2 linked regions of the Homo sapiens genome follow. The protein of the gene in region 1 purifies or fractionates together with the protein of each later gene. This does not show direct contact. Each region holds a gene or a part of one and is shown in the gene's direction. Other genes may lie near its edges.

The links.
Region 2: the proteins of TMED7 (region 1) and DGAT1 purify together in Homo sapiens (affinity purification with mass spectrometry; one large-scale study listed by BioGRID and IntAct). This does not show direct contact.

Annotation. Positions count from the first base shown.
Region 1 is NC_000005.10:115,622,428-115,628,595, reverse strand, and holds the start of TMED7 (transmembrane emp24 domain-containing protein 7 precursor), read left to right. Parts: upstream 1-2,559; 5' UTR 2,560-2,803; coding exon 2,804-2,995; intron 2,996-6,168. Other genes in the region: TMED7-TICAM2 (TRAM adaptor with GOLD domain isoform 1 precursor), read left to right, coding at 2,804-2,995. UniProt on the Homo sapiens protein: Potential role in vesicular protein trafficking, mainly in the early secretory pathway. Appears to play a role in the biosynthesis of secreted cargo including processing and post-translational modifications.
Region 2 is NC_000008.11:144,316,853-144,320,352, reverse strand, and holds part of DGAT1 (diacylglycerol O-acyltransferase 1), read left to right. Parts: intron 1-1,284; coding exon 1,285-1,325; intron 1,326-1,432; coding exon 1,433-1,518; intron 1,519-1,601; coding exon 1,602-1,654; intron 1,655-1,786; coding exon 1,787-1,892; intron 1,893-1,990; coding exon 1,991-2,092; intron 2,093-2,183; coding exon 2,184-2,258; intron 2,259-2,335; coding exon 2,336-2,439; intron 2,440-2,530; coding exon 2,531-2,569; intron 2,570-2,640; coding exon 2,641-2,682; intron 2,683-2,764; coding exon 2,765-2,809; intron 2,810-2,907; coding exon 2,908-3,020; intron 3,021-3,037; exon of another isoform or gene 3,038-3,100; coding exon 3,101-3,166; intron 3,167-3,243; coding exon 3,244-3,331; intron 3,332-3,437; coding exon 3,438-3,500. UniProt on the Homo sapiens protein: Catalyzes the terminal and only committed step in triacylglycerol synthesis by using diacylglycerol and fatty acyl CoA as substrates. Highly expressed in epithelial cells of the small intestine and its activity is essential for the absorption of dietary fats.

The DNA of each region.
Region 1 (6,168 bases):
GGGCCTCAGAATCGTAAAAATTAAAGATTAAATAAAAATTTTCAAATTAAAAAATGTCCAATAAAGGTTATTGAGATCTGAGATATTTAAAAATATTTGATAATTCATTTAAAATAAACAATAAACCCATTACATATTGCATTAGTTTCCTGAGGATCCCGTCACAAATTACTACAAATGTGATGGCTTGAAACAACAGAAATTTTTTCTCTCAGAGCTGGAGAGTCAAGAAGTCTGCAAGTAAGGTATTGCCAAGGTTGATACCTTCTGGAAGCTCTGAAGGAGAAGGTGTTCCAAGCCATTCTCCTAGTTTCCCATAGCGATGGGCAATCCTTGGTGTTCCTTGACTTGTGAACATATCATTCATTCCAATCTGTATCTTTGTCTTCAGTATGCCATTCCCCTCCCCCAACCCTGCCCCTGTATCTTTGTGTCTGTGCATCTCAAATCTTCCCTCCTCTTATAAGGTGTGTTAGTCCATGTTCATACTGCTATGAAGAAATACCCAAGACAGGGTAATTTACAAAGAATAAGTTAAATGAATTGATAGTTCCACATGGCTGGGGAGGCCTCACAATCATGGTGGAGGGTGAAGGCACAGCAAAAGCACGTCTTACATGGCAGCAGGCAAGAGAGCGTGTTCAGGGGAACTGCCCTTTATAAAACCATGAGATCTCATGTAGCTAACTACCTGTTATAAAACATGAACAATGTTTATAAACATGAATAATGCATTATACGTGCATTATATGTTTATAAACACAAATAATGCATTATAAACACAATACTGCTTTATGGGAAACATAAATGAATGGGAAGAACCCGCCCCCATGATTCAGTTACCTCCCACCAGGTCCCTCCCATGACACATGGGGATTATGGGAACTACAATAAAACCATCAGATCTCATGAGACTTATTCACTATCACCAGAACAGCATGGGAAAAATCTGCCTCCATGATTCAATTACCTCCCACCGGGTCCCTTCCGTGACATGTGGGGATTATGGGAACTACAATTCAAGATGATATTTGGGTGGAGACACAGCCAAACCATACCATAAGGATAACAGTCTTTAGATTTAGGGCCCACCCTAAGTCCCAGGATGACCTCATCTTGAGGGCCTTAACTTAATTACATCTGCAAAAGCCCTATTTCCAAATAAAATCATATTCACAGGGGTGGAGGGGTTGAAACTTGGACATGTATTTTTTAGGGGGACACAATTCAACTCACTGCACACATTTACATAAATAACACATCTTTTAATAAAAATATTTTCGAAATAAAAATTTAGCAAGAAGAGTGACCTTATTTTTGTAAATCTTTCATATCTAGATTTAAGGAAGAAGCTGGGTGCTCATTTCCTTTGATATTCAATCTGTTATGCTGTTTTGGTTGAAATATATAATGAAAATCCAGCTTCATACAGATCATTACATACCCTCTGAAAGGGTTTCAGGAGGCTTCTGGGGACTTCAGAGCAACACTTGAGAACCACTGCTCTAAAGCATATACTCCATAAATATATGTAAAATGGAATTTCCAGGCTGTGGCTACATATTCCAGGCTATATATATATATATATATATACATATATACACACACACACACACACACTGTATATAGGTGTGTGTGTTCTGTGTGTGTATACATATATTCTACTTTATTAGATAATGGCACATTGTTTTCCAACTTGATTAACCAATTTACTTTTTCACTAGCAGTGTATAAGAGGTTTTGTGGCTCTATAAGTCGACCAATATCTGTTATTGTTACACTTAAAATTTTTGCCTATCTTGTGGTATGTAATGTATTGATTGCACTGTGACGTTTAATTTAACAAAAGTTCATCTAGTGCTTGCTATGTACCAACCACTTCTAGGTACTTTTTCCAAATATTGGTACTTTGTAATAATTCTCTATGGTAGGTGCTATTATCTCCATTCTACAGATACACACTGAGGCAGAGAATTTAAGCAAGTGGCCGGACGTCACACAGCCAGTACGTGGCAAAGCAGGGATTAAGCACTCCTGCAGTCTGCTCTTAGAATTCGCGCTCCTTGCCCAGCTGCTTCCCCCAAATATTTATTATTACTTATGAGAAAACTCCGCAAATTGCAAAGCGCTCTACCACCAACGATTAGCACCCTAGGGCAAAATGAGCCCTTTACCACTCCCTAGATGCTCCCCAGCGCTAAGTTCCCAGCGGAGGTTGCAGTGAGCGCAGATCGCGCCACTGCACTCCAGCCTGGGTGACAGGGCGAGACTCTTGTCTCAAAAAAAAAAAAAAAAAAACAACAAAAAAAGCCAGTGATTGGAGCGTAATTACCCTCGCCAACCGCCTGTAACCACGGCGGCCGCCACGCCCCGTTTCCTGGTCTCGCCCCTCTCCGCCCACGACTCTGGCCCCGCCCCTCGTCCCAGGCTGCAACGGAGGCAGAGCCAACGCCTCGCGGGCTTCCACGTACGCACTCCAACGCGTGTTCCCGGAGAAGAACGCATCCGGGTCACGGGAGCCGGTGTCTCAGGCTCCGCCCCTTCACCCCCCGAAAGGCTAATCCCCACTTCCGACCCTCTCAGGCCTTTTCCGCTTCTCTTTTACCTCCCCAGGTCCGCCCGTCTGCGCCCCTCACAGGAAGCCGGAGGGTCGCTCTGATCCCGAATCTCCCACAGGCGTGAACCTGCTCTGCTGTGTATCTTTGCGGGGTGGCCTGCGCTGAGGCCTGCCGCGCGCGGTGAGTCCGCGCAGACCTGACCCTGCGTCTCGCAGCTCGGTTGAGGCCGCCGCCGCCTTCTCGGGATGCCGCGGCCGGGGTCCGCGCAGCGCTGGGCGGCCGTCGCGGGCCGTTGGGGGTGCAGGCTGCTCGCACTGCTGCTACTGGTGCCTGGACCCGGCGGCGCCTCTGAGATCACCTTCGAGCTTCCTGACAACGCCAAGCAGTGCTTCTACGAGGACATCGCTCAGGGCACCAAGTGCACCCTGGAGTTCCAGGTATCAGGGGCCTAGCAGTCCCTGGGCCCCAACTCGCGGCTCCAGGATTGGGGGTGTAACTTGAGGGATGGCACTTTCCTGTCCGTGTTTCCCCGTTCTTAGGCTAATTCAAAAATCGCTTCTAGGTAGCTGATGCCCAGCATTTGACTTTCCTCTAATAAACCTTGGGTGAGAGATGTTAAGACCGGGTGTTAAAATATATGAATTCCAGAAATGCTCCCTTTAGCATTTCTTTCCATCTCATTTTTAAGGCCTATTGAACTTTCTTCCTTAAAAGATTCCCTTAAAGAAAATCATTTATACTCTGTAGTACCCAGTGTCAACCCTCTACTCTCTAATCCACACCTCCAATTTAATTGGATTTGGAGTGCTGCCAATGTCTAACTTCATTGCTTTTCAGTTTTACCAATATTAGGACTGTTGGTTAATACGGTCCTTGTCATTGGAAGAGCTCCATTACAGGTTGAACGGCCATTTGCCAAGGGAGTTGTAGAAAGAATTGCTGTGATAAATGAGAGGCCCCTTCTGATATTTGGGATTATATAAAAAAGAAACTTTAACAGAATGTGGTTTATTCGGTTGGTTAGAACAGTCTTTACTGAGCTTCAATTTTGGTTGGTAGGCGCATTTAACATTTGAGTAGCTATTGAATACTAGGTGCCAGTGGTACAGAAGTGGTCGAAACAGATAGGGTCACTGCCATCATTCATGATTCCCCTCTCACCCTGCTTTTCTTAACTGGTATCTGCTCATTCATCAGAACTGTGCCTTAAGAGCAGTAAGTAGGATCCATGAAGGAAGACTTCCTTTGGAAAATTATTTTAAGCTGAACTTTAAAGGATGAGCTATAAACACCTTGGTAAGGGAGGAGGGGGAATAGCCTGTGGTAGTAGTGAACACTGAGAATTTCAGGGCCATAGAGAGAGGTCCAATATGGTTGGGAATAAGGAGCCAGAGCAAGGGGGTCAGCAGGGGCAGGCCAGATAGTGTCTTGCTGACCATGTTAAGGATTTGTTTTTCCTGAAAGTGTAGGAAGCCATCAGAGGGTTATAAGCAGTTCAGTGATATGACGAGAATATTCTTGGTAGCTGCATTAATAATAACTTGTGCAGGTAGAGAAGTGATGGTAAGATGTTGCAGAGCGGATGTGGAAGGCTGATTAGGAGGTTATTATGGTGGTCTAGACAAGAAATGATAGTGGCTTAGAGTAGAGTGATAGCAGTGGGGTAAATGAAAAGTGAAAGGATTGGAGAGAAGGTAGTAGGTAGAATCAACAGGACTTGGTAATGATTTGGCTATAGTGGGTCAGGGAGGGGAGGCCAAGGATGACCCTTAGGCTTACTTACCTTCATGGATTAGCACCAGGGGACAGAAAAGAAGATAGCAGGAATTGTGATAAAAAGTATAAGCCGACATTTTCTTTGTTTGAATTTAATAAACATTTCCTGGATTTTTGTGTATGCAGACTCAGTGATTAGTGCTAAGGATACTACTACAATGGCTAACAAATTAGCATCTGTTATGTGTAGACAGTATGTTAAGCATTTCAGGTATGTTCTCAGGAAAGCCCGATATGAAATTGTTATAGCTCTTACTCCTTTTTTACTGATGAAACTGAGGTTTAGATAGGCTAAGAACCAAGGGCATAAAACGTAGAAGTAGCTAAATCAGTAACGCAGTCCCAAGTTAAATTCTTAACCACTTTATTATACTACCTCCCAGAGACTGACTTTGATCTCAGAGAGCTTACACAGACATATATAGTCATAAAATGTTAAATGTGACAATAAAGGTACACACTAGGTATAGTGCTGGCAGGAGACAGAAGGATCATCAGGGGACATTTAGCTGAGGAGCTGATGTTAGAGGTGAGTCTGCAAGATAAGTAGCCGTTGCTCTACAAGGCGGCAGAGGAGAGAAGAAGGGGCCCCAGGCAGATATGTTCATGACAGTTCCAGCAGGCCTGAAATTAGCCTGAGCTATATTGCTAACATTTGTGCATGGCATTGAAAATACACTGAATAATAATAGTTTTGTGACTATAGTTATATTTATTAATAGTCACAAAACTATTATTATTAGCTTTAATATGAAGCTATTATAATAGCTTTGTGACTGTGAGTCCAAGGGCTTTGGGGGCAGTTTGTACCAGTTTGTCAACATTATTTATTGGTAACAATGAGATTGATGATTTGCTCCTGGTCTTCATGAGACCACACCCCCAACCCAGAGCTCTGTTGTTGAGACTAGCTGCGTAGCAGGAATATGCCTATGTGACCAGCAAAATATTTAAAAATGCAATCAGGACTCTATTTTGGGTTGCTTGGTTCCAGGGTGTTTTCTTTGCACACTTGGGTGGTTCCAGATCTGAGAGAGTATATGTCTGGCCACACACCTAACAAAGGGAAGCCGAAGGAGCCCACACCTGACCTTTTCAGATCTCTTGCTGTGAGGCAGCCTTTGGCTGTAATGTTTTATATTCTTTTCCTTTTGGGGCTCTTTTCAGTCCCAAGTTAAATTCTTAGCCACTTTATTATACTACCTCCCAGAGACTGACTCTGACCTCAGAGAGCTTACATAGACATATATAGTCGTATAATGTTATAAACTGTAGATTTATAACATAACCTACAGTAATAAACTGTAGATTTGCAAACACTGTCATTTTGATCCGTGTGATTCTTTAGCAAACCCTGTTGAACTGCACTGTCAGTGCAGATGTAAAGCAAAGACTTGTTCAGAGAATTTCTGGTAGTCTGGTATTTTAGGAACATAGAACGAGTAAGGGTGTGAATAAAAGAGGTTCTGAAGCTACCTGGGAGGAAGAACATGTGAATAGTATACCATTGTTAAGAGGTTTAGATTTGTCTGCAGGCCACAGGTAATTATCAAAAAGTTTTTAAGTGATTGCTCAATGGGGAATGAGGAAAGATGGGGAGATGGGCACCCCTTCTTCCCAGGAGACATTCGGCATCATTTTAGGAGAAGGGCAGCTACCTGCATCTAGTAGTTAGAGACCAGGTATGCTGTTTAACGTGTCACAGTGCACAGGACCATACAGCCTCCTACAACACAGAATTATTCAGTTCAAAATGGGAATAATGCGAGGTTGAGAAACCCTGAGTTCGAGGGAGAAGATATTGGGTAGTGGGAAGACCTTTTAGGAAGTTGTG
Region 2 (3,500 bases), on another chromosome or scaffold:
CAGCGCCAGCCCAGCACTCAGGAGACGCAGCCCATTCCTGGCCCAGGTTGGGCCTTGTCCAGCCCAGGCAGCACTGTGTATTCTCCCCAACCCCTTGGGCCTGCCTGGCCCTTTGGCCCAGCCCTGAAGCCTTTTCCCTGCTTTGGCTCCCCCATGCCCCCACCCCAGGCATGTATCCCGCTCTGGGCTGCTTGTTGCATTCCTTCTGTGGCCTGGGCCTGGAGGTGGGTACCGTCCATTGGCAGCTTTGGCTTCTGCCTGCTGTCAGCCCTCGGGAGAGGCCAGTGACAGTGTGGGCCACGTGTCCATGCAGAAGGCCTGTGTGTCAGCCCTGCGGCCGGGGGAGGCGGGGCAGTAGCCCTTGTGTCTCTGAAGCAGTCTTCTCTCTCATGAAGCCTTCCCTGACCACCCAGGCAAGACACCCTCAGTGTTCCCTTGCCAGCGACCCTTTTCCCCAGCACCAGTTCACTACCGCATGAGGCCCGAGCTCCGGGTGGTCAGCCAGGTCTGCGGCATTGGGGCCCAGCTTAATGGAGGTGTTGGTAGTGCTTGTAAGATGGAGGAGGAGGTTCCTGTCCTTGCAGAGGGAGGCCAAGCACCCAACTCCAGGCTCGTCCCAAGAGCCTTATTCCATGGGGGCTCAGTCCTGGGAAGTTGCTTTGGAGCCAAGTGTCCAAGGCTTAGAGGGCGGCAGGAAGCAGAAGAGGCAGGCGGGGCACAAGCCCTGGGAAGCACTCCAGGCCCAGCCCCCCTTGCGACACAGCTGGACACTGCTCCTGCAGAGAAAGAGTAGACAACTCCCCCTCTTCAGCCTTGGCCACCAGTAGGGACTGGTTCCTTGGGGCTCAGCCGTGGGCAGGCCTCCCTGGGCAGGCCTGTATTCTGGGGCTGTCTCTGGGGTGTGGTTGGCTGTGGGAGCCTTGGGTCCCTCACTGGCTCGGCTCAGCAGGAGGGATGTGAGCAGATCAGCAGCTGGTCTTTCTGCTCCTGAAGACCCAGGCGTCTGGCAGGGTTGGTTGGTCTGGCCGGTTGGTTCCCTCCATGTGGGACCGTCTGGTGTGATGGGGACAGGGAGGGACTTCCCCTTACCCAGCACTGGTGTTGGCTGAGGTGGGTGCTGAGTCTCAGAGCTTGGCATGGAGACCAGACAGGGCTGGGTCTGCAAGCCTGAGGCTGCCGCCCTGAGCTCGGGCTGGGACGTGCCCAGAGGTGTTGGGAGGATCTGGGGTGAGTACCCTGTGGCCAGGACTAAAGGGGCTGCACCCTCCTGTCCATCCCTCGCAGATCTTGAGCAATGCCCGGTTATTTCTGGAGAACCTCATCAAGTGAGTGCCTTTGCCAGGTCCCACCCCTGCCCCACCCATGGCCTGTCCAGGCCCCGCCCCACAGCCCCACCTGCCACCCACTCAGACCCCCATCCCTCCACCCCCAGGTATGGCATCCTGGTGGACCCCATCCAGGTGGTTTCTCTGTTCCTGAAGGATCCCTATAGCTGGCCCGCCCCATGCCTGGTTATTGGTGAGCTGGGCTCTGAGGAGGGCCTCGGGTGGGGATCAGGCTGACGTGGCCCTAAACCTGCCCCTTGGTGCTTCTGTCCACAGCGGCCAATGTCTTTGCTGTGGCTGCATTCCAGGTTGAGAAGCGCCTGGCGGTGGTAAGCAGTGCCCCTCACCTCCGTGTGTGCTCACCCTGCTGTGTGCGCTCCTGGGAGGAGCTGCTCCCCAGGCCTGGCAGCCCTCTCCCAGGCAATGGGAGCCCTGGTTGAGTGCTCTGCTCCCCACTCCAGGGTGCCCTGACGGAGCAGGCGGGACTGCTGCTGCACGTGGCCAACCTGGCCACCATTCTGTGTTTCCCAGCGGCTGTGGTCTTACTGGTTGAGTCTATCACTCCAGGTGCGCCCCCATCCCACCCTGCCCATCTGTCTCGGGCCAGCCACGGGCATGGCCTCCGGCTGTGGCGCTGTGGAGGCCTGAGTCCACCTCTCCTGCAGTGGGCTCCCTGCTGGCGCTGATGGCGCACACCATCCTCTTCCTCAAGCTCTTCTCCTACCGCGACGTCAACTCATGGTGCCGCAGGGCCAGGGCCAAGGCTGGTGAGGGGCTGCCAGGGGCTGGGGCTGCCTGCTGGGGGGCTGGGCAGCAGCAGGGCCCCACCAGCCCCCTCCCACTCTGCTGTGCTCGTAGCCTCTGCAGGGAAGAAGGCCAGCAGTGCTGCTGCCCCGCACACCGTGAGCTACCCGGACAATCTGACCTACCGCGGTGAGGACCTCTGTGGGCCTGAGGTGCGGGGGACAGGCTGGGCCTGTTCTGGTACCAACCCCCCATTCCCATTCCAGATCTCTACTACTTCCTCTTCGCCCCCACCTTGTGCTACGAGCTCAACTTTCCCCGCTCTCCCCGCATCCGGAAGCGCTTTCTGCTGCGACGGATCCTTGAGATGGTGAGGTTGGGGGCTGGGGGCAGCCACTGGAGGCTAGGGGGCCTTCTGGCTAGCCAGGGCCTCAGCTGGCTGCTCTCTGTTTCCCCCCCAGCTGTTCTTCACCCAGCTCCAGGTGGGGCTGATCCAGCAGGTAAGTGGGGTAGGGCAGGGTTGGGTGTAGCTGGGCATGGCTGGGAGCTGACGTGGTGCCCTCCTTTGCAGTGGATGGTCCCCACCATCCAGAACTCCATGAAGCCCTTCAAGGTGAGTGGCTCAGGTGCTCTTGCAGCTGGGGTGGCTGGGGAGTGACCAGGAGCATGGCTAGCTGAAGGGCTTGTTTCTGCAGGACATGGACTACTCACGCATCATCGAGCGCCTCCTGAAGCTGGCGGTGAGTGCGGACAGGTGGCGCATGCACAGGACAGGAGGGGACAGTGGCATGTGGGGGAAGGTTCTAGAACTTGGTGCCCACCCCCACCTCCCTGCCAGGTCCCCAATCACCTCATCTGGCTCATCTTCTTCTACTGGCTCTTCCACTCCTGCCTGAATGCCGTGGCTGAGCTCATGCAGTTTGGAGACCGGGAGTTCTACCGGGACTGGTGGTGAGTGTCCCTGGGGTGTCCCTGGGGGCTGGGATGGGCCATGGTGTGCTCTGATCCCCCTGTGGTCTCTTGGCCCCCAGGAACTCCGAGTCTGTCACCTACTTCTGGCAGAACTGGAACATCCCTGTGCACAAGTGGTGCATCAGGTAGGTGGGGTGTGTGTGTGTGTGATGTGGAACATGGCTGTGAACCTGAACCGCTTTCCATGCCCCCTCCTCTGCAGACACTTCTACAAGCCCATGCTTCGACGGGGCAGCAGCAAGTGGATGGCCAGGACAGGGGTGTTCCTGGCCTCGGCCTTCTTCCACGAGGTCAGTGCTCTGGGGGGCATCTTGCCTCATCCCTGGGCAGGGGTATGCCCACAGCAGGGACGGCTGACACCCCACTCCCTGGCATCCTCTCTCCCTCCCATCTCAGTACCTGGTGAGCGTCCCTCTGCGAATGTTCCGCCTCTGGGCGTTCACGGGCATGATGGCTCAG